2 separate regions of the Homo sapiens genome follow, and region 2 is linked to region 1. The links come from fine-mapping of genetic effects on gene expression. A gene starts in region 1. The other region holds a variant in brackets. All regions are shown on one strand. Distances are from middle to middle.

Region 1 (10,999 bases):
TTGGCCAGGCTGGGCTTGAACTGCTGACCTCAGGTGATCCGTCCACCTCAGCCTCCCAAAGTGCTGGGATGACAGGCATGAACCACCACAACCAGCTGCCTGTATGATTTTTTTTTTTTTTTTTTTTGAGACGGAGTTTCGCTCTGTCACCCAAGCTGGAGTACAGTGGCACGATCTCGGCTCACTGCAAGCTTCGTCTCCCGGGTTCACTCCATTCTCCTGCCTCACCCTCCTGAGTAGCTGGGACTGCAGGCGCCTGCCACCATGCCTGGCTAATTTTTTGTATTTTTAGTAAAGACGGGGTTCCACTGTGTTAGCCAGGATGGTCTCATTCTCCTGACCAAGATGTTGAAACCCCTATCTCTACTAAAAATACAAAAAATTAGCTGGGCATGGTGGCAGGCACCTTTAATCTCAGCTACTCAGGAGGCTGAGGCAGAGAATTGCTTGAACCTGGGAGGCGGGAGGTTGCAGTGAGCCTAGATCGCACCACTGCACTCCAGCCTGGGCAACAGAGTGAGACTCCATCGCAAAAAAAAAAAAAAAAAAACGAAAGCTGCTACAGCCTTCTCAGGCTTATTGTTTTCATGGTATGTATATTTTTCCATCCATTTCCTCTCTTATTTATGTCTAAATTATGGCTTTGATAGACAGTATGTAATTGGGGTTTGGATTTTTATCCATTTTGACAGTATCTGCCTTTTAATTAGCATGTCTATTAGCATTTTTCAAATGATGTTTTAAGCACTTAACACGTGCACTTTTTTTATATTTGAGACACAGTCTCACTCTCTTGCCCAGGTAAAGTGCAGTGGCACAATTATAGCTCACTGCAGCCTTGACTTCCTAGGCTCAAGCAATCCTCCCACCTCAGCCTCCCGAGTAGCTGGGACTATAGGCGTGCACAACTGTATCCAACTTCACATACACTTTCGAAAAGCTTTTTAGGGTAGAAGTTCCGCTTTCTTAGCTCATCTTCATAGAATTTGAATCTAAAAAAAAAACAACTGAAAAACATTTGTCTTTACCATATTATTATAATAAAAATGACACTTTGTGAAACAGCAGCTGTATTTTTAAAGTACTATCAGCTGATACACTTTTATTTTATGTTATTTTATTTTATTTTATTTTATTTTAGAGACCGAGTTTCACCCTTGTTGCCCAAGCTGGAGTGCAATGGTGTAATCTCGGCTCACTGCAACCTCTGCCTCCTGGGTTCAAGTGATTCTCCTGCCTCAGCCTCCACAGTAGCTGGGATTACAGGTGCCTGCCAGTACTCCTGGCTAACTTTTTGTATTTTTAGTAGAGATACGGTTTCACCATGTTGGCCAGGTTGGTCTCAAACTCCTGACCTCAGGTGATCCACCCACCTCAGCCTACCTAAGTGCTGGGATTACAGGCGTGAGCCATGGCACCCAGCCAGTACTGTTCTTTTGACACCTGGCTTTTCATAGTATAATTCTCTGTTCCTGAATTGTATTTTTTTTTTTTTTTTTTTTTGAGACAGAGTCTCACTCTGTTGCCCAGGCTGGAGTGCAGTGACATGATCTCAGTTCACTGCAGCCCCCACCTCTTGGGTTAAAGTGATTCTCCTGCCTCAGCCTCCCAAGTAGCTGGAACCGCAGGCATGCACCGCCACACTTGGCTAATTTTTGTATTTGTAGTAGAGACAGGGTTTTACCATTTTGACCAGGCTGGACTCGAACTCCTGGCCTCAAGTAATCCGCCTGCCTTGGCCTCCCAAAGTGCTGGGATTACAGGCATGAGCCACCGCATGCAGCCTTGTTCCTAAATTCTGTCTTCTGTCTCTTGTCTGTTTCAACATTTCAGAGTACTTATTTCATGACTCTTTCAGATTACATTACTATTTCAAGTCCCCCCTGTTCATTCTACCAGTGGATTCTCTCTGGATAGTAGAATTCGTTGTGTATTTTATAAGTCTTTTTTGATGAAAGCTCATTTCTGACTATAGTTATTTCCCAAGGGTTTCATGTGGCTTGGGCTGGGAAAGCTTCTCTTTGAAGTGACTTCCAAGTTGCCTCCACCCTGACTACAGGATTCATTGGCTTGGAAGCAGAGTTTTTAGGTTAATTTCTCAATGCAGCTCGCTGCTTTCAGGTCGTTTGGATGGTATGAGCTTAGACTCTATACTGTTAGGAGTTCAGAGGTTAGGTTCTGAAGGTTAACTGGTGCATTGACCTTTAGTAGTTGTATTGATATGTGGTTCAATTTGGGGCTGCCATTTTATCATTTGATTTCTGTTCGTTGTCTTTGTCTTTTGTTTGTTCCTCCTTTCTTACTTTCTTTTTAGAATTCCAGTTTCAGCTGGGCACGGTGGCTGACACCTATAATCTCAACACTTTGGGAGGCTGAGGCGGGCAGATCACCTGAGGTCAGGAGTTCGAGATCAGCCTGGCCAATATAGTGAAGCCCAGTCTCTACTAAAAATACCAAAAATTAGCCGGGCATAGTGGCGGGCACTATTAATGCCAGCTACTCCGGAGGCTGGGACAGGAGAATCACTTGAACCCAGGAGGCGGAGGTTGCAGTGAGCCGAGATCGTGCCATTGCACTCCAGCCTGGGCGACAGACCAAGACTCCGTCTCAAAAAAAAAAAAAAAAAAAAAAGGGGCCAGGCGCAGTGGCTCACGCCTGTAATCCCAGCACTTTGGGAGGCCGAGGCGGGTGGATCACGAGGTCAGGAGATCAAGACCATCCTGGCTAACAGGGTGAAACCCTGTCTCTACTAAAAATACAAAAAATTAGCCAGGCGTGGTGGCGGGCGCCTGTAGTCCCAGCTACTCGGGAGGCTGAAGCAGGAGAATGGCGTGAACCCGGGAGGCAGAGCAGAGCTGGCAGTGAGCCGAGATCACACCACTGCACTCCAGTCTGGGCGACAGAGCAAGACTCCATCTCAAAAAAAAAAAAAAGAAAAAAGAATTCCAGTTTCATTTATCTATTTTCTTTTTTACTTTGCCTCTGCATTCTTTTTTTAGTGGTTACTCTACAGATTGCGGTATAAATCCTTAAGATAGAGTTAATCTTGCCAGGCACAGTGGCTTATACTTGTGATCCTTGTAATCCTAGCACTTTGGGAGGTCGAGGCAGGGTCGAGGCAGGGTCGAGGCTTAAGCAAGCCCAGGAGTTTGAGACCAGCCTGGGCAACATAGCAAGACCCCCATCTGTACAAAAAAAAATAAAAAACTAGCTGGGCGTGGTGGCGAGCACCCTATTCCTAGCTACTTGGGAGGCTGAGGCAGGTGAGGCAGGAGGATTGCTTGAGCCCAGGAGTTCGAGGCTGCAATGAGCCATGATCCTACCACTGCACTCCAGCCTGGGCAACAGAGCAAGACCCTGTCTCAAGAAAAAAAAAAAAGACAGTTAATCTTGTACCATTTCCCATTAAATGTAAAAACTTTGCAACCACACAGAAGCATTTCTTTCCCCCTTCCTCTCCCTCATCCTTTAAGGCAGGGTTTCTCAACCTCGGCACTGCTGCCATTCTGTGTGGGGGGGCTATCCAAGCACTGCAGGATGTTGGGTAGCCCACCCACCAGACGCCAGTGACATAGCTCCTCCTCAGGTGACAGAAAATGTCTCCAGATATTACCAGATGTCCCCTGGGGGCAGAAGCACCACAGGTGTGAGAACTCTCACTCTGAGGTATAGGTGTCCTGGGTGTTTCATCTGCCCTTGTTTTATTTTTTATTCATTTATTTATTTATTTGAGACAGTTTTGCTCTTTTTTTGTTTTTGAGACAGAGTCTCGCTCTGTCACCCAGACTGGAGTGCAGTGGTGTGATCTCAGCTCACTGCAACCTCCGCCTCCCAGGTTCAAGCTATTCTCCTGCCTCAACCTCCTGAGTAGCTGGGATTACAGGCACCTGCCACCATGCCCGGCTAATTTTTTGTATTTTTTTTTTTTAAAGAAGGGGTTTCACGACGGTCACCAGGCTGGTCTTGATCTCCTGACCTCGTGATTCACCCACCTTGGCCTCCTAAAGTGCTGGGATTACAGGCATGAGCCACTGCGCCTGGCCCTAATTTTTGTATTTTTAGTAGAGATGAGGTTTCACCTTTTTGGCCTGGCTGGTCTCGAACTCCTGACTTCAGGTGATCCACCCACCTCGGCCTTACAGGCATGAGCCGCAGTGCCCGGCCAATGCTGAATGTTTTATATCCCATAGTGTATTTCATTCTCACAAGATCCCCCGGGTACTGTTCCTTCTCCCAGAGCAAGAAGCACAGTGGCTGAGGTCCAGAGAAACGGAGGTGCTTCATGCAAGGTCAACACAGGATTCCTAACCGGACAGCCTGGGCTCCAGCACTGCCTGCTGGCCACATCCACCACTGCCTCCAGGAATCAGGTCTAGGTCTTGAAGGCAGCTCTGGGGCCAGAGACTGAGCCATCTCTTTTTTTTCCAGGTGTACAAAAGAGCCAAGGCGCTGGACCAGTCTGACAACGATATGTCCGCCGTGTACCGAGCCTACATACACTAAGCTGTCGACACCCCGCCCTCACCCCTCCAATCCCCCCTCTGACCCCCTCTTCCTCACATGGGGTCGGGGGCCTGGGAGTTCATTCTGGACCAGCCCACCTATCTCCATTTCCTTTTATACAGACTTTGAGACTTGCCATCAGCACAGCACACAGCAGCACCCTTCCCCTGAGGCCGGTGGGGAGGGGACAAGTGTCAGCAGGATTGGCGTGTGGGAAAGCTCTTGAGCTGGGCACTGGCCCCCCGGACGAGGTGGCTGTGTGTTCACACACACACACACACACACACACACACACACACACAGGCTCTCGCCCCAGGATAGAAGCTGCCCAGAAACTGCTGCCTGGCTTTTTTTCTTCCGAGCTTGTCTTATCTCAAACCCCTTCCAGTCAAGGAACTAGAATCAGCAACGAGAGTTGGAAGCCTTCCCACAGCTTCCCCCAGAGCGAAGAGGCTGTAGTCATGTCCCCATCCCCCACTGGATTCCCTACAAGGAGAGGCCTTGGGCCCAGATGAGCCAGTACAGACTCCAGACAGAGGGGCCCTTGGGGCCCTCCAACCTCAGGTGATGAGCTGAGAAAGATGTTCACGTCTAAGCGTCCAGTGTGCACCCAGCGCTCCATAGACGCCTTTGTGAACTGAAAAGAGACTGGCAGAGTCCCGAGAAGATGGGGCCCTGGCTTTCCAGGGAGTGCAGCAAGCAGCCGGCCTGCAGGTGAGCATGGAGGCCCGGCCCTCACCGCCTCGAAGCCATGCCCCAGATGCCACTGCCACAGCGGGCGCTCGCTCCTCCCTAGGCTGTTTTAGTATTTGGATTTGCATTCCATCCCTTGGGAGGGAGTCCTCAGGGCCACTAGTGATGAGCCAAGAGGAGTGGGGGTTGGGGGCGCTCCTTTCTGTTTCCGTTAGGCCACAGACTCTTCACCTGGCTCTGAAGAGCCACTCTTACCTCGGTCCCCTCCCAGTGGTCCCACCTTCTCCACCCTGCCCTGCCAAGTCCCCTGCATGCCCACCGCTCTCCATCCTCCCTCCTCTCCCTCTTCCTCCCGTGGAGACAGTATTTCTTTCTGTCTGTCCCTTTGGCCCAGACCCAGCCTGACCAACGATGAGCATTTCTTAGGCTCAGCTCTTGATACGGAAACGAGTGTCTTCACTCCAGCCAGCATCATGGTCTTCGGTGCTTCCCGGGCCCGGGGTCTGTCGGGAGGGAAGAGAACTGGGCCTGACCTACCTGAACTGACTGGCCCTCCGAGGTGGGTCTGGGACATCCTAGAGGCCCTACATTTGTCCTTGGATAGGGGACCGGGGGGGGCTTGGAATGTTGCAAAAAAAAAAGTTACCCAAGGGATGTCAGTTTTTTATCCCTCTGCATGGGTTGGATTTTCCAAAATCATAATTTGCAGAAGGAAGGCCAGCATTTACGATGCAATATGTAATTATATATAGGGTGGCCACACTAGGGCGGGGTCCTTCCCCCCTCACAGCTTTGGCCCCTTTCAGAGATTAGAAACTGGGTTAGAGGATTGCAGAAGACGAGTGGGGGGAGGGCAGGGAAGATGCCTGTCGGGTTTTTAGCACAGTTCATTTCACTGGGATTTTGAAGCATTTCTGTCTGAACACAAAGCCTGTTCTAGTCCTGGCGGAACACACTGGGGGTGGGGGCGGGGGAAGATGCGGTAATGAAACCGGTTAGTCAATTTTGTCTTAATATTGTTGACAATTCTGTAAAGTTCCTTTTTATGAATATTTCTGTTTAAGCTATTTCACCTTTCTTTTGAAATCCTTCCCTTTTAAGGAGAAAATGTGACACTTGTGAAAAAGCTTGTAAGAAAGCCCCTCCCTTTTTTCTTTAAACCTTTAAATGACAAATCTAGGTAATTAAGGTTGTGAATTTTTATTTTTGCTTTGTTTTTAATGAACATTTGTCTTTCAGAATAGGATTGTGTGATAATGTTTAAATGGCAAAAACAAAACATGATTTTGTGCAATTAACAAAGCTACTGCAAGAAAAATAAAACACTTCTTGGTAACACAGCTGTGCCGCAGGAGTCCTGCTTCCCTCGTCCTCGGCGAGATGGGTGGGAGGAGAAGGCAGCGGCGGGGCCGGGGTGGGTTTTCGGGACCTCCGCGTCCGGGGTGAGACGGACTTGGGAGTGGCGGCGAGGTCCGCGGCAGGGTTGGAACCACGACCAATGGAGCCAAGCGGGCCAATAGGGAGGAGGAGCGGGGACAGACTGTCCTGCCGGCCAATGAGTGAGCGCGAGTGGAGCAGAGCGCCCTATCATATCCTGGGGGCGCCCCGGGAGCTCCGCCCCCAAGCGGGCGCCCCAGGCTGGTGCCGGCCGCGTCCCTGGCCAGCCGGAGCAAGCCTGACTCGTGCAGCCGCCGGCCGCGTCCCTGGCCAGGCGGAGCGAGCCTCACTCCCGCAGCCGCCAGTCTGGTTCCAGGGCTCCCGCAGGTTTCGGGGGCCGAGGCGGACCGACAGGCGCCAGCCAATCGCGAGCACGGAGCCGGCCTGGGGGCGGGGTGGTACCCGCTCCGCCAATCGGGTGGGGGCGGAGCCAGACGCCGGGGGCGGACGGGAGGACCGGAGGACCGAGGACAGAAAGATTGGTGGACAGGAGCAGCGGCCGGTGGGGAGGGCGCTCGGCGGCGGCCTGCGGCCATGGCCACCGTGATGGCAGCGACGGCGGCGGAGCGGGCGGTGCTGGTAAGGCGCGCGGGCCAGCGGGCGGGCCGGCGGGGCGGCGGGGCCGGGCGCGACCGCCGGGTCTGTCCCGCAGGAGGAGGAGTTCCGCTGGCTGCTGCACGACGAGGTGCACGCTGTGTTGAAGCAGCTGCAGGACATCCTCAAGGTAACGACCCGCGCCCTGCCCCGCCGGGCGTGGCGGCCCTCCCTCCTCATTTCCCTGGCTCCACCTGGGGCCGCGCGGCTGCGTCCTGAGCGCCTACAGTGTGCGGCTGCCGCGGCTTTCAGGCAGGGCCCCGCCTCCGCGAACTCGAGCCGACCTCATTATATAAGTACCTGTGTGCGGGCAGGGGCGGGTCCCGACGAGGGTGCTAGCAAGGGCCTGAGTCCCGCCCGGCCTCGGGTCGGGGAAGGCCGCCTTGGGAGCAGCGGCATCCAATCTGGGAGCCGAAGAATTCTGCCTCTGCCTGGCAGTGTGACTTCAGCCAAGTCACTGAACCTCCCTGGGCCTCCCTTTTCTCATTGGCAAAAGGGAGATAACAGTACCCGCTTCGCGAGGCTGGGGTGTAGATAAATGAGCCAGGCAGCTCACAGAAGTAACCGGCGTAGTGCTTGCTGTGGCCCAGGACCGCGGGTTACCATAACTACTGCCTTGTTCCCTGACTCTGCCCCTTGCCCCTTTCCCCCTCAACCAAGCTGGGAGGCTGCCCCTGTCTGTTTTGTATTCCCCGAGGCGGGCACACAGGAGGTGTTCAGGGAATGTGGTATAAGCAGAGATCGGGCTCACGGTTAGGTGCCCTGGGGGCTTGGGCAGGGTCTTCCCACCCCAGCTGAACCCAGGTGAGGCCAGGCCACGTTGTTCCTTCCCCCCGCTGACTTGGAGGGAGGGGGGCTTCTGGAAGGAGCACTGGGCCGGGCCTGAGTGGGCGCTACCAGCTCCCCTCCTTCCCTCTGTTCCACAGGAGGCCTCTCTGCGCTTCACTCTGCCGGGCTCCGGCACTGAGGGGCCCGCCAAGCAAGAGAACTTCATCCTAGGCAGCTGTGGGTGAGCCTGGGCTAGGCGGAAACCGGGGAAATGGGTACCTTGGGGGGTAGGAGGCATGGCCATAGCCCTGTCCTGCAGACCAGCTGGTTGTGCGATGGGACAGGAGGGGCAGCCCGCCGGGAGGGAGGGCTGGGTGGTGGGGGGGTGACCACAGGCACCGCTCTGACGCCACATGTTACAGCACAGACCAGGTGAAGGGTGTGCTGACTCTGCAGGGGGATGCCCTCAGCCAGGCGGTGAGTCCCCCGGCCCTGTCCCCTCCCATCCTGCCAATGGGGAAGAGCATGGGAGCTCCCACTTTCTCTCTGTACAAGCCCTGCGACTCTGGGCGGGACCCTTGATCTCTCTGGCCTCAGTTTTCTCCTTTGGAAAATGACAGCAACCCTCACACCTTCTCCCGGGATCGGTGTGCAGATTCAGTAAGAGGTGCAGGAGAGGGGTTCTTTGCACACGGCCTGGCCTGGCGTCCGGACCAGTGAAACATGGGCATTGGTGGATTAGGCTGGCCACACATCACAGTTGAATCAGCCAATGCCTGAACTCCAGTCTGCACCCGACTCTGTGCCAGGCACCAAGGCGTGGGGGGAGGCCCCCCTCCTGGGCTCCATCTGTTGCCCTTTGTAGACACTAGATGCACCCCGTTCGCACAGAGCCTCACAGAGGCTGCCTTTCCTCTTCCCCTTCCCCTTTCTTCACCTCTTTCCATTTCACTTCTTTGTGGCTCTTCTTGGGCCTGGTTTCCTGTTTCCTGACCTCCCTGTTCAACCCCCAAACGGCCAAGGCATTGGGAGACCCTCTGCCCTATACAGCGGCCAAGGCCTGAACCACCACACACCCCATTTCTGCCCTGGGCTTAAGGGCTCAGAGTGGCTGTGGCAGGAGGTGCCCCCCCACTGCCCAGCTCACCCCACTCTTGCCTGTCAGGATGTGAACCTGAAGATGCCCCGGAACAACCAGCTGCTGCACTTCGCCTTCCGGGAGGACAAGCAGTGGAAGCTGCAGCAGGTGACCCCGCCCCTCCTGGCTAGTGCTCAGCCACAAGGACAGGCGGCAGCAGGCCTGCCGCGGGGCCTCCCTGGAGAGGGACTAGCCCTGGGGATCTGTGGCCACAGCAAGCCTGGGAGGGTGTTTCCTAACAGCAAAGCTGGGGGCAGGCGTTTCCTGAAGCCCTGGAGGCTGCGCCATGTGGGGAGGTAGAGAACCTGGCCTGAGAGCCCCGAGGGCCACATCGGGACTGTGGAGTCCCCACAGCAGCTGGCTGGATGAGATGGTTCAGAAGCCCTCTGAAAAGTCACTCCCTTGCCCAGAGCCTCCAGGGACTTGCCATGGCTCTGGGGATGAGGCCCATGCTCCCTGGCAGCTCCTGTACCAATGGGCCCCAGCCTCCTCCCCTGCCCCCTCCACCCCGACTGTCTCCATCTCAGCACCCTTGCCCCTGCCTTGTCGCCCTGTTTGCTTCCCTCCGCAACTCGCACAGACTCTTGTCTTGGGCATTACTGTGTGTCCATCCCTTAGAAAGGAGGGGGCAGTCAGCTTGGGCAGAGACCAGGCCTGCCCCAGGTGATGCCAGATGCCCATCACCTGGCGTGGACCTGGCCCTCTGGGGCACAGGGATGACAGTGTGGAGAGTGGAATGACGTGGGGCAGGCAGGCAGCACCCACTCTCCCCTCCTGGCCGCATGGAAGCTGGCGTGACCCCTCTGGATGACCCCTGCTTCCAGATCCAGGATGCCAGAAACCATGTGAGCCAAGCCATTTACCTGCTTACCAGCCGGGACCAGAGCTACCAGTTCAAGACGGGCGCTGAGGTCCTCAAGGTGAGCTGCCCCCGGGCCTGACTCCTGGGCCTAGTCCCACGTTCTTGATCCGGAATCACACCTGGGTTCCAATCCCAGGGCCTCCACGTTGAGCTGTGCAACCTGTAAGCACTTACCTGCCGACTCTGTGTCTCCATTTCTACCTGTGGGGTCAGGGGCAAGCTGGAGTGACTGTTCACCATAATAATTCAGGTCACGGGGCCCCCAGTAAGCACTCGGCACACACCACTGCCGGTAGCAGCAGTGAAAGCCTTCACATTAACCGCGTGGCACATGTGAAGAGCTGACCTGGGCACCTGACCTCATGCTTGAGTTCTGCCCCTGACTTGCTGTGTGTCCTCCGGTGGTTCACCTGCCCTCTCTGGACCTCTGTTTCCTCACACTTAGAACCAGATAGACTAAGATCCCTTCGAGAACTGTAACCACCCTAGGGTGCTACAGGCCCTATACCCCCAGTCAGCTCTTACGTGTTTCCTGGGAGCCACATCACCCTGGTACTCATGGCCACGGCTGAATGGCACGAAAGCTGGGGCTCTGAGGAGTCTGCCAGGGCTCTGCTCCACGGCAAAGGGAAGGAATGGGCTCCAGGTGGTCCCACCATCCATCAGCCGTGACCCTGGCTTACCCCCCTGAAAACCTCAACCCAGTCATCCATCGCCTCTTCCAGGAAGCCCTCTCTGGCCCTTTACAACCAACCTTTGTTGCCTGTACCCCTGTCCACAAAGCCTGTGCCCCTGGGACTGACCTCCCAGGACCTTCCATTCCCCATTGATCCAGCACCCAGGATCCCCGTGCAGTGAATCAGCCCCATCCCGACTGACATTAGTGCAGACATCCTGCCCTCCTCCATACCCAGCTGGAGCCCAACTACCTGTCTTTAACAGGTCCCTGCTGCCGGGTTTCGGGACCTGGGAACAGTAGCCACTGGGCTGGGTGGGAGTGGGAG
Region 2 (10,999 bases), 44 kb before region 1:
TGGCCAACACAGTGAAACGCCATCTCTACTAAAAACACAGAAATTAGCTGGGTGTGGTGGCGTGCACCTGTAGTCAGTCCCAGGTACTCGGGAGGTTGAGGCAGGAGAATCACTTGAACTCGGGAGGCGGAGGTTACAGTGAGCCGAGATCGCCCCATTGCATTCCAGCCTGGACGACAGGGCGAGACTCGGTCTCGAAAAAAAAAAAAAGAAAGAAAAAAAAAAAGGCAGTCTACGTGTTTTTTTGTCTGCCCCTATACTAGGTAGACAGCAAGATTCTGTTGGAAGAGGAAAATGTCCAGCATGAAATTCTAACACTGGAACTGTCAGGGACTGGTTTCATTTACACATAACGTTTATAACCTTGGCAGAGAAAAATGTATTGTTTTTAAAATTTATGTTAATTAGTCATAATTCAAATTGGCCTCTCCCTTTGCGCACAGAGGTAAGAGAAGCAAATCTTGTGCTTGCCTTGAGTGAGTGACAGGATCTTGGGGCAGCCAAAACCTCAGTTAAGTCTTGCTTCCCCGCTACGGAAGCCCCACATGCATGCACTGACCCCTGTGCGTTAAACCTGCAGCGCCTCTGGGAACAAAGGGGTGTACCTTATCTCCAGGCTGAAGGCCTTTTACCTTCCCTCGGATATTCTTCACCAGCTCTGGGTAGAAGAACTCTGGGCAGCGTTTGTGATCTGGTTCAAAGAGGGTGAGTGTAATCCGAACAGCTGCTGCAGCCGGCTCACAGTCCTGATGCTGTTCTCCTGCCCCAGCCTCCTCCTTCCGGGACTTCTTCAAAAACGCAGGATTCAGGGAACCTGGGAGAGAGGTGAACTGGACCCTGTGGGGCTCCGACATGGCTACCAACAAGTCTTAGCGGGTGTCACTGCATGGCTTCTGTTAACATTGAAAAGAAGGGCCAGGTCAAACGAAGATGATAAAATAGTTTACCTGCCTAATTAAAGAGATTTAAGTTTAAGAGAATTTCATTGTCAAGAAAACTCCATTGTTATATTTTGTCATTTATTGTTTTTTTCTGCTTATTCATCCTAAAATTTTTTCACAATCATTCAGAGATAGTCACTGCTTAGCATACTTCCAGTCTTTTTTCCTGTGCATGTGTATCCTAGATCCTTGACCTTAAAGAACCCATGCTGACAGAGCCTTAGACCTCCAAATTGTAAAGACTACTAAAATATTAATTATTTTCCATTTAATTTGTCTAACACTTATTTTTTCTGGCTGAGAATAATCTTTAAGACCCCTTTATTTTCATCACCAGCAGTTTCCTATCATTGGGAGCCAATCTTCACAATGACAAAGCTTTTATCAGCTGAACAAAAGATATTGCCTACCCCAGGATAGTAAAGAACCAGTGACTCAGGAGGGTGTGGCTAGGCTCACTTCCTAACAAAGTTACACACTCCTGCCCTGTGCACCACTCTCACACCCAAACACTGGCCTTGACAAAATAACAAATTATGACATGCCAAAGACCTTCAAAATCACTTGGGAATGGTCAAAATAGATTTTGAATACAGAATTCCAAATGTTCACAGAATATGAATATGCTAATACATGCCATACATGTTTTCTGCTTACTTCGTATACAATTTTGTGTCCTGCTTTTTAAAAGAGTTCATATTCTAGTGTGAACTTTCTACCATACCAATAAATAAAGATATTCATTGCAGCCTTGTTTATACAAGAAAAATGATGGAAGCAACCAAAATGACAATCAAATGACAATCAATCAGGGAATGGTTGAATAAATTGTGACTTTCTTATTGACTTGTAAGCGCTCTTGATATTATACATAAATTATTATACATTATAGATATACAAAATCTGTCATATCTCTTATAAGTACTTCTTCTTGTTTTGTTATTTGCTGTTTAGTGTTGCTTAGAGTGAGGTATGATGAAAGAAATGTTAACTTTTTTCTTTTTTTTTTGAGCTAGGGTCTCGCTGTTATATCCAGGCTAGAGAGCAGTGGCCCAATCACAGCCACTTCAGCCTCAACCTCCCAGGCTCAAGCAAACCTCTCACCACTTCAACCTCTCGAGGAGCTGAGACTACAGGTATATCCCACCATGCCTGGCTAATTTTTTCTATTTTTTGTAGAGATGCTGACCCACTATGTTGCCCAGGCTGGTCTTAAGCTCACAACCTCAAGCGACCCTCCTTCCAAGGAAATTATAACTTTGTATGCAGTTAAAACTAGGCTCTTTTCCTTTGAGACTCCTCCCATTTCTTTTATGCCTAGAATGTTCGTCTCCAACCAGATCTTATAGAAGAACTTGTGTATATAGGTTTTTTGTTTTTTGAGACAAGGTCTCACTCTGTTGCCCAGGCTGGAATAAAGTGACTCAATCTCAGCTCACTGAGGCCTCAACCTCCCAAGCTAAAGCGATCCTCCTACCTCAGCCTCCCTAGTAGTTGGAACTACAGGCGTGCTAATTTTTGTATTTTTTGTAGGGACGTTGTTTTGCCATGTTGCCCAGACTGGTTTTGAACTCCTGCTGGGATTACAGGTGTGAGCCACTGAGCCCAGCCTATATGGTCATTTATAGATATTTTTTCACATTTACTTCATTAACCCCAGATGAATTTGCTATGCTATAAAGTATGAGGAGAGGCTGTAACTTGGTTTCTTCCAGCATCAATCACTAAACAATCCTTCCTTCCTCTGCTGATTTGGCATATATTGCAAAGCAACATCACAGATATCTAAGGCCTGTTTCTGAAGTCCATGTGTCATATTAATACGGTATTTAGAGATTCTTTAATCAGTATTGCACTGTTTTGTAAAGTTTCATACTTTAATGTTGCAAAGTTAAAGCTCATGTTTATTATCCTTCTTTATAAATAATACTTTGCCATTCCAGCCTATGTATTATTTTGGCAGGTTTCAAAAAAACTCACTGTATTTTGGTTGTAAATCAATCACAAATGTGAGTTAATTCAGGAAAATTAGCATATATCGTATATATCCACATACATGTAGACGTATTTGTATATATCCAATATTCATTTGTCGAATTATGATCACAAAATCAACTTATAACATCACATAAGGGAACAAAATATCTACAAATGAAGAGTTAAAATAATTCTAATCAGGCGGCAAAACGATTAGCAGTGTAACAGGCTGGCGCTGCAAAAGACCATCTCCCAACACGTACTAAGATGTTAAAGGAGATTTCCCTAAAAGAAATCTCCAAGGCCCTCAGGATATTTGTGATGCGCTGGGTTGTGGAAATAAATCCCAGCTGAAGGCTTACAGATTCCCCCACTGATAGAACCGGAACAGTCTCACTATAAGAAGGGAATCAGCAAGTTAACCAATGGGATGCAGGAAGGTCATCCTTGAATTGGCAACCAGGTCCTACTCCCCCTGTCCAGGCAGTAAACACATAACCTTATCTCAGTCCAAGTCTGAGAGACTGCAGCTTCAATCCTAGATGGCAAAACTGCTCCTTTCAGTTGCTTAAGTGACTCTCCAGGCCCAAGAAGGTAAAAAATAGGACTACAGGATAAAGTGAGTCAAATCTGTACTCTATTACCACTTAGATTTGGGGTTGTTTTATAATCATTATAATGTTCTGCTGTTACTAAGCCATTTGAAACATTTAAGAGAATCCAATATATTTAACAATGGTACGTTAGACTTACAATCATAATTCAAAATGCTTAAGAAAATATAATTAAGTTCAAACATGTTTGAATGCTTAAAAAAAACTTACATTTATCTATTAGACTTACGAGAGTTGCCTAAGTCCTTGGAAAGATTTTAGCTTTTTTTGTGGTTTTTTTTTTTTTTTTTGTGAGACAGTTGCCTCACTCCTGTTGCCCAGGCTGGAGTGCAGTGGCACCATGAGAGCTCACTGCAGCCTCAACTTCCCGGACCCAGCACTTTGGGAGGCTAAGGCAGGATGATCGCTGGAGCCTAGGAGTTTAAGACCAGCCTGGACAACATGATGAGACTTCATCTGCACAAAAAAATTTTTTTTAAATTAGCCAGGTATGGTGGCACACCCCTGTAGTCTTGGCTACTAAGGAGGCTGAGGTGGGAGGATGGCTTTAGACTGGGAAGGTCCAGGCTGCAGTGAGCCGTGATCCTGCCACTGCACTCCAGCCTGGGCGACAAGAGTGAAACTCCGTCTCAAACAAAAAAAAGAAAAAAACAAAGATCCCCCTTTAAAAACCTCAGTTGGTGTTACTGAGAAAATACTAGCCTTCCTTGTCCCTTGGTTATCCTCAGCAATTTTTAATTTTTTCTTACTATATATATATATATCTCCTTCTAAACATTGTATTTTCAAACTGGTTATTGATGAAACAGAAAAACTAAATTGTGCATTCCAACTTATAATGAGTACCCTTCCTGAATTCTTATTTTAATGGGTTTTTTGGTTTTTGTTTTTGTTTTCAAAATAGGCAGACCTATCATCCACGGAAATGAGAATTCTGTCTTCCCTTTTCCAAAAATTGCATTTCTTATTTTTGTTTCCTGTCTTACTGCACTGGCTAGAACTTTCAGGTTTTAGGCAATATATTCTTATTATCTAATAGTGGTAGAAATGTACCATGTTTCTGATGTTAAGGGGAATGCCTCTAGGTTTTGGTGCAATGTTCATTTGAGATTTTTTTTTCTTTTTTCTTTTTGGCGGGGGGACGAGTCTCGCTCGCTCTGTCGCCTAGCTGGAGTGCAGTGACATAATCTCGGCTCACGGCAACCTCCGCTTCCCGGGTTAAGCGATTCTCCTGCCTCAGCCTCCCAAGTAGCTGGGACTACAGGCATGCGCCACCACGCCCGGCTAATTTTGTATTTTTAGTAGAGTACTGGGTTTGACCGTGTTGGCCAGGCTGGTCTCGAACTCCTGATCTCAGGTGGTCCACCCGCCTCGGCATCCCAAAATGCTGGGATTACAGGCTTATACCACCCTGCCCGGCCAAGATTCATGTTTTTATTTAAGTTATTAAAATCTCATTCAATTCCTCACAAATTCAGAATTTTTAAACAGGAACTTATGTTAAATTTTTATCAAATTATTCCCTGGAATCTTAAATACGCTTTAAAGATCACTTTGTCTTAAAAATACACACGCAGTAAATGACAGTCCGTGCAGCTAATTCTTGGTACTTCAGGGAAACTGATCTCCCAAGAAAAATCAGGCTGCGGGACGACCCAGTACGCTAAACACCGACTTGCAACCGAAATCTCTAACCACCACAATGCCTTGGGGAAATGCGTGTCGACTCGCCACCTTTGCCAGCTGGCAGTGACTCAACAAGAGCCCGACACCAAGTCTAAGTCAATCCTTAACACTGTGGAGTCTGTGATCGGGACTGGGATCTTTTGCAAAATTGTGATTCTACCTGGTCTGCTGAAGTTTGGGCCGACGCTGCGCTCAACTGCAGTTAACACTTCCCAGTTCATGGTTCAGTTTTAAAGTGTCCAAACTACGCCCGGCATCTGTCTTCCTGTTGTCACAACTTTTTCAAAAGTGCAAAACTAGGGCAAGGCTAACGAGAGAGCCCGGACCCGACAACGACACGCACCTTTGTCCCCAGCGCCGACGCGGGCCGCAGACGTCCCCCCGCGGCGGTCCTCATGCCGGTCCCCGGGCGGCGGCGCAGCTAGCGGTCGGCTGCTAAGCCGTGGCTCCCAGCGGGCGGGCGGCCCGCGCCTCGGCCCATGGCCGGGTCCCCGAGCCCAGGGGAGCCTGGTGTGCCGCGCCGCGCGCCGGCCCAGGAGGAAGCGAAGAAATGCCAACTCGACGTCCGCGCAGCCACTCCGGGGACACCAGGGGGTCGGGGGAGCAGCCTCCGGTCGCCCCAGGAGAACTTGCGGCGCGGGACCCCGCGCTCAGACGGCGCCTCCGAAAGCGGCCGTCGGGAGGAGCGCTCCAAAGAACACGGGCGGCGGGAGCGGACGGGCGCGGACACCGGGGCCTCCCGGCCTGCGGCCAAGCAGAGTTGCCGGGCGCGGGAGCCCAGACCCGGCGGAGGCTGAGTTCCAGGCCGCGCCGAGCTCCGTCAGGGTAGCTCACTGGCGCTGCGACGGGGCCGACCAGCGCCTCGGGCTCGGGAATGGCCCCGGGGCCCGCGCCGGACCAACGGGCGTAACGGAAGCGCCGAGAGGGGAGGGGCGCGGAGTCCAAGACCCGGGGGCGGGGCGAGCCGCGAGGCCGGCTCCCTCTCGCGCTCAGCCGGTCGCACCGTCGCCGCCGCCGCCGCCTCAGACCGCGGGCGCTTCGTTGTCACGAGCCGAAGGGAGGGGGAAGGAGCCGGGAGTCTCTGCGCTCCGGCGCGCGGAGACCGCGGCGCTCGCGTCACGTGCCCCTCGGTCGACCAATGATCCCCGGCGGGCGCGGTGACGTCAGAGTAGCGGCGTGGCCAGTGACAGCCGGCCCCCGTCACGTGGTCGGGCCCACTCCA[A/C]TGGGCGGCGCCGGGGCGACTTGCTGTTCCCGGCGGCCCGTGCGTCGGCGGTGGTTGGGTGGTAAGATGGCGGCTGTGAGTCTGCGGCTCGGCGACTTGGTGTGGTGAGTCCGAGCGGCCGGGCCAACCGAGACGCGCCGGGGAGCTACCCGCCTGGGCGCGGGGTTCGCTGCCGGCCCTGGAGCTGCCTTTTTATGCGCTCCAGGTCGCGGAGAGAGGGGAAGAGAAGGTGCCGGCGCTTGCGAGCGGCGCCAGGCGGAAGGGGCAGTCCAGTCCCGGGGGACCGAGGCCGAGGGTGGCCACGTCGGGCACCGGCTTTGATCCCCGAGGCCGGCCGGGTGGGGTCTGCACTCGGGGCCCAGATACTGGCGGCCCCCGTGAAGGGAGCCGCCGGTGCCGCGAGGCTTCCCCGGACGACCGGTCCCCGGGGTCTTGTTGGGGCTTCCCAGAAAGCAGAAGCGCCGGGGACCGGACCTGCGAGATCTGGCCGGTGCCATTCGGTCAAAGCCCAGGTTGCGATGCAGCCGACCTGTGCGGCCGGCTCAGCCGGGGTTGTCTAAACCGGACTGCTGGCGTTGCCCCGCGAAGAAACGGCGGGGGGACTTCTCCTTTACAACCGATGGCTTGGCAGTGACCAGTGCACGCTTGGGTGCCTCCCGCGGTCTGCTTCTGTGTCCCAGACAACCGCCCGAACCAAGACTTTGTCGCCGCCTCCCTCGAGCTGCGTAGCTTGTTTCTCCACCCAGAGGAAGGCTTCCATTAGCATTTGTCAAAGCCAGGCAGGTCTCCTGTTGAATTAAACCAGACTTAGGGAGGGAAAGTCTGTGTTTACAGAGGAAGCTGTCCTCCCACCCCCGTCATTAAGAAGCTCTAGACAAGTGACTTTTGACAGTTGTGTTGTTCTGTATTCCTTGTCAACAGAAGAATGGATATGCGTTGTGCACATAAGTATACAATTTTGCATTTTACTTCTGAGGGTGTTGGGCCCAGCTATGAAAGCTTTTGTTTCGGCATTTGAGGATGCCAGCAGAGATTTAGGAAAATAAATTGCGTATTGAGTGGGTTGAAGGAGATGGACTGGCTTTTGCAGGGCAAGTGTTGACTCTTTGTGTTTTCTCTAGGGGGAAACTCGGCCGATATCCTCCTTGGCCAGGAAAGGTGAGTGTCTTGCTACTAAAGGAAGAGATCTGAAGTTGGGTTTGAAGAGGTGGAGAATGTAAGATGCATTCCTCTCAGTTTCTAGTATTGAGTTAAATTGGGCTCATTCAGATGGCACTTAGAATTTTTTTTCCCCTAGTATCGGTTATTTTTTAAAAGGCAATGCAGTATACACCAGATCATTAAATCTTCTCTAAACCCTTATTTCTGGATTTAGAGGAGGTTTATGAAGTTTCTTTTTTAACCCCGGAAATAATTCTAGTCTGAATTTAGCTTTATGCTTAAATGTAACAAAAGGAGAAGAAAATATAAATTATCCAGGAAGAAAGTCTAAATGTAGGTTAGTGAAAAGCCAAAGTATTTTTGTCCCAACTAAGTTTAAATCTTCTTTCCATGTTACCATATGTGCTACTCCAGTGCCTCTTTGCAGAAGTTGGCATTCCAGATTTTGCATGAGGTGATCCATCATTGCTTTCCAAATGTTGTGTTTTTATATTCTTGCTTGGAGCCCGGGAGGTGTCTTTAGATGGTCTCTTTGCAATATGGTGTTTTCTGTGCCTCGGTTGTCCTTTGTTTTCACTATGTCCTGTGTCAACCCTTCCTGCACAGGAAGTATTTCAAAGAGTGTCGTCTGCATTTTTTCAGTAATAATGGGGTCACATTGGAGCAGGGGTGGGGTGGTGGGGGGCAGGGGATGCTGTTGATCTTAGTTTTAACTGCTTGTAAAACAGGGCCACTGCAGTAAAAGGGATATTGTGTCTACTGAGCACTGTGCTACATGTTAAATATTGGGAACTTCTAGAATATCTACACATTTCCATACACCTCAATAGAAAAATGGGAGATTTAGACAAGTACTAGGCCTTGGGTTCTGTTTTGTATATAAATAAATTTATTTGTAAGTAAGTCCTTTTAATTTACTTTTTTCTTAGCAACGTAGAACTGTAGAGCAATGTGGAGCCACTAGAAAGTGGGCTGCTGTGTTGCCAGCCAACCTTTTTCCCCCCTTTTATCCTCCAGATTGTTAATCCACCAAAGGACTTGAAGAAACCTCGCGGAAAGAAATGCTTCTTTGTGAAATTTTTTGGAACAGAAGATCAGTGAGTAGTACTCACCAGGAGTCTCCCTTCGCCTTTCTTTCTGTGTTACCTGGAGTCTGAGCTGCTTTGAAAATATTCTAAGGATCCTTAGTTCAGTCTTCTTATAATGTGTAATACTGGCATCTCATTCTGCCTTCATACCTAAATAAAGGTGCAATTTCTTGCAGAAATTGCCCTAGACAACTGTCCTAGGTCTATAACTAAGTCAGGCAAGAACTAGGTTCATTTACCTTCTAACTATAACAATCACATTGAAACAGTTTCTCACATGTTTCTTTACCCAACTCCAAAGGCAGTTCCTTTTTGTTTGTTTTTGAGACAGAGACTTAGTCTGTCACCCAGCCTGGAGTGCAGAGGCAGTCTCAGTTCACCGCAACCTCTGCCTCACTGACTCAAGCGGTTCTCTCACCTCAGCCTCCCGAGTAGCTGGGACCACAGGTGTGCACCACCATGCCCAGCTAATTTTTTGTAGAGGGGGTTTTACCATGTTGCCCAGGATGTTCTTGAACTCCTGGACTCAAGCAATCCACCTGCCTTGGCCTCCCAAAGTGCTGGATTATAGGCGTGAGCCACTGCGCCCAGCTGGCAATTATTTTTATAAAAGCCATGTTCAGTTCTCTTTTAATGCCATATATCATTATGGTTCATGCTTGGGGTATACAGTGGAAACTTTTATTTATGTTAATAAAAGTAATTGTTCAATCATGTTCTCATGTGTAAAACTAAGTGATTTGCTTTGACATTGTTATAGTAAGTCTTTTTACCAGATCTGTCCTAAGTTGGGGAAACCAGGACCATTAATCTGAGACTCTGACCATATAACATGTTACAGTGACGGGAAGAACGTGAAGAACCTGTATTAACTTGAGTTGCTAGTGATTTGTTTAGCTTTTTATCACTATGTCAAGTGGCTTACCTGGGTCTAGCTAGATGGTTTGATTTTTTTTTTTTTTTTTTTTTGAGATGGAGTTTCACTCTGTCACCCAGGCTGGAGTGCAGTGGCATGATCTCAGCTCACTGCAACCTCCACCTCTCGGGTACAAGTGATTCTGGTGCCTGAGCCTCCCGAGTAGCTGGGACTACAGGCGCACACCACCACACCCGGCTAATTGTTTTATATTTTTTAGTAGAGACGGGGTTTCACCATGTTGGCCAGGCTGGTCTCAAACTCCTGACCTCAAGTCATCTGCCCCTCCCCCCCCCAACCCCCTCAGCCTCCCAAAGTGCTGGGATTACAGGCAAGAGCCACCATGCCCAGCCGGTTTGATTTCTTTAAGTAGTTGTATTTCTATTTATTATTCTTATAGGAAAATACAGCCTTAGATTTGAAAAAAATGTCTGTGGCTTCTCTGGTAAATCTAATTCTGACGGTTAAAGTATTTCTACTTAGAAAGCGATATATTATAAACAGTATTCTTCACTCATCCAGGAGTTTATATGTCAGATGCTCTTCCTGGTTTCATGTTTACAGATAGACCCAGCCCCATTTCTCTATCACAAGCCAGCTTAGCAGCCTGTGGTGGCAGTATTTCAAGGAGATCGCTGGCCTGGAGCTGTGGAGCCAGAGCTTCTGGAAGAGGGAATGTTCTTAGAACTCCATGGATTTAAAAAGAAGATTTGGCCGGGCATGGTGCCTCAGGCCTGCAATCCCAGTACTTTGGGAGGCCAAGGTGGGTGGATCACTGGAGGTCATGAGTTCGAGACCATCCTGGCCAACATGGCAAAACCCCGTCTCTACAAAAAATACAAAAATTAGCCAGGAGTGTTGGCGTCTACCTGTAATCCCAGCTACTTGGGAGGCTGAGGCTCGAGAATTGCCTGAACCCAGGAGGCAGAGATTGTTCGAGACCCTGCACTCCAGCATGGGTGACAGACTGAGACTATGTCTCAGAAAAGAAAAAGAAAAACAGGAAAGATTGTCCTCATGCATAACATCAGTGTTATGTGTCCACTTTCTGAATTGCTTGACACTGAGGGAATTTATAAGAAAGCAAGTATTATAGTTCCCACCTTCCAGATGCTCAGTCAAGTGACAAGTTGTAAACATTTCAGATAAGATGATGTGCACAATGATGGTCGGGCATGGTGGCTCATGCCTGTAACCCCAGCACTTTGGGAGGCCGGGGCAGGCAGATTGCTTAACGCCAGGAATTTGAGAACAGCCTGGCCAACATGGTGAAACCCTGTCTCTACTAAAAATACAAAAATTAGTCGGGTGTGGTGGTGCACACCTATAATCCCAGCTACTCAGGAAGCTGAGGCAGTAGAATTGGTTGAACCTGGGATGCGGAGGTTGCAGTG

Evidence for each region.
Region 2: its variant is fine-mapped to the expression of ROGDI in whole blood (INTERVAL, PIP above 0.99).

The regions. Positions count from the first base shown.
Region 1 is chr16:4,798,740-4,809,738 of GRCh38, reverse strand. ROGDI (rogdi atypical leucine zipper) reads left to right here and starts at 7,106. Exons shown (of 11, transcript NM_024589.3): 1 at 7,106-7,212; 2 at 7,286-7,357; 3 at 8,154-8,236; 4 at 8,418-8,472; 5 at 9,161-9,241; 6 at 9,958-10,053. The coding sequence starts at 7,168. It overlaps GLYR1 (glyoxylate reductase 1 homolog), which reads left to right. Exons shown (of 16, transcript NM_032569.4): 16 at 4,429-6,536. The coding sequence ends at 4,503. RefSeq lists enhancers at 4,757-5,051, 7,098-7,598 and silencers at 6,599-6,810, 6,703-7,492, 7,533-7,592.
Region 2 is chr16:4,842,773-4,853,771 of GRCh38, reverse strand. It overlaps GLYR1 (glyoxylate reductase 1 homolog), which reads left to right and starts at 6,484. Exons shown (of 16, transcript NM_032569.4): 1 at 6,484-6,544; 2 at 7,562-7,598; 3 at 8,619-8,698. The coding sequence starts at 6,507. UBN1 (ubinuclein 1) reads right to left here and starts at 6,291. Exons shown (of 18, transcript NM_001079514.3): 1 at 5,562-6,291; 2 at 606-893. The coding sequence starts at 854. RefSeq lists enhancers at 703-1,902, 5,483-6,325, 6,621-6,680, 6,981-7,040 and silencers at 5,611-5,700, 5,711-6,430. The variant A/C (reference allele first, on the strand shown) is at 6,441.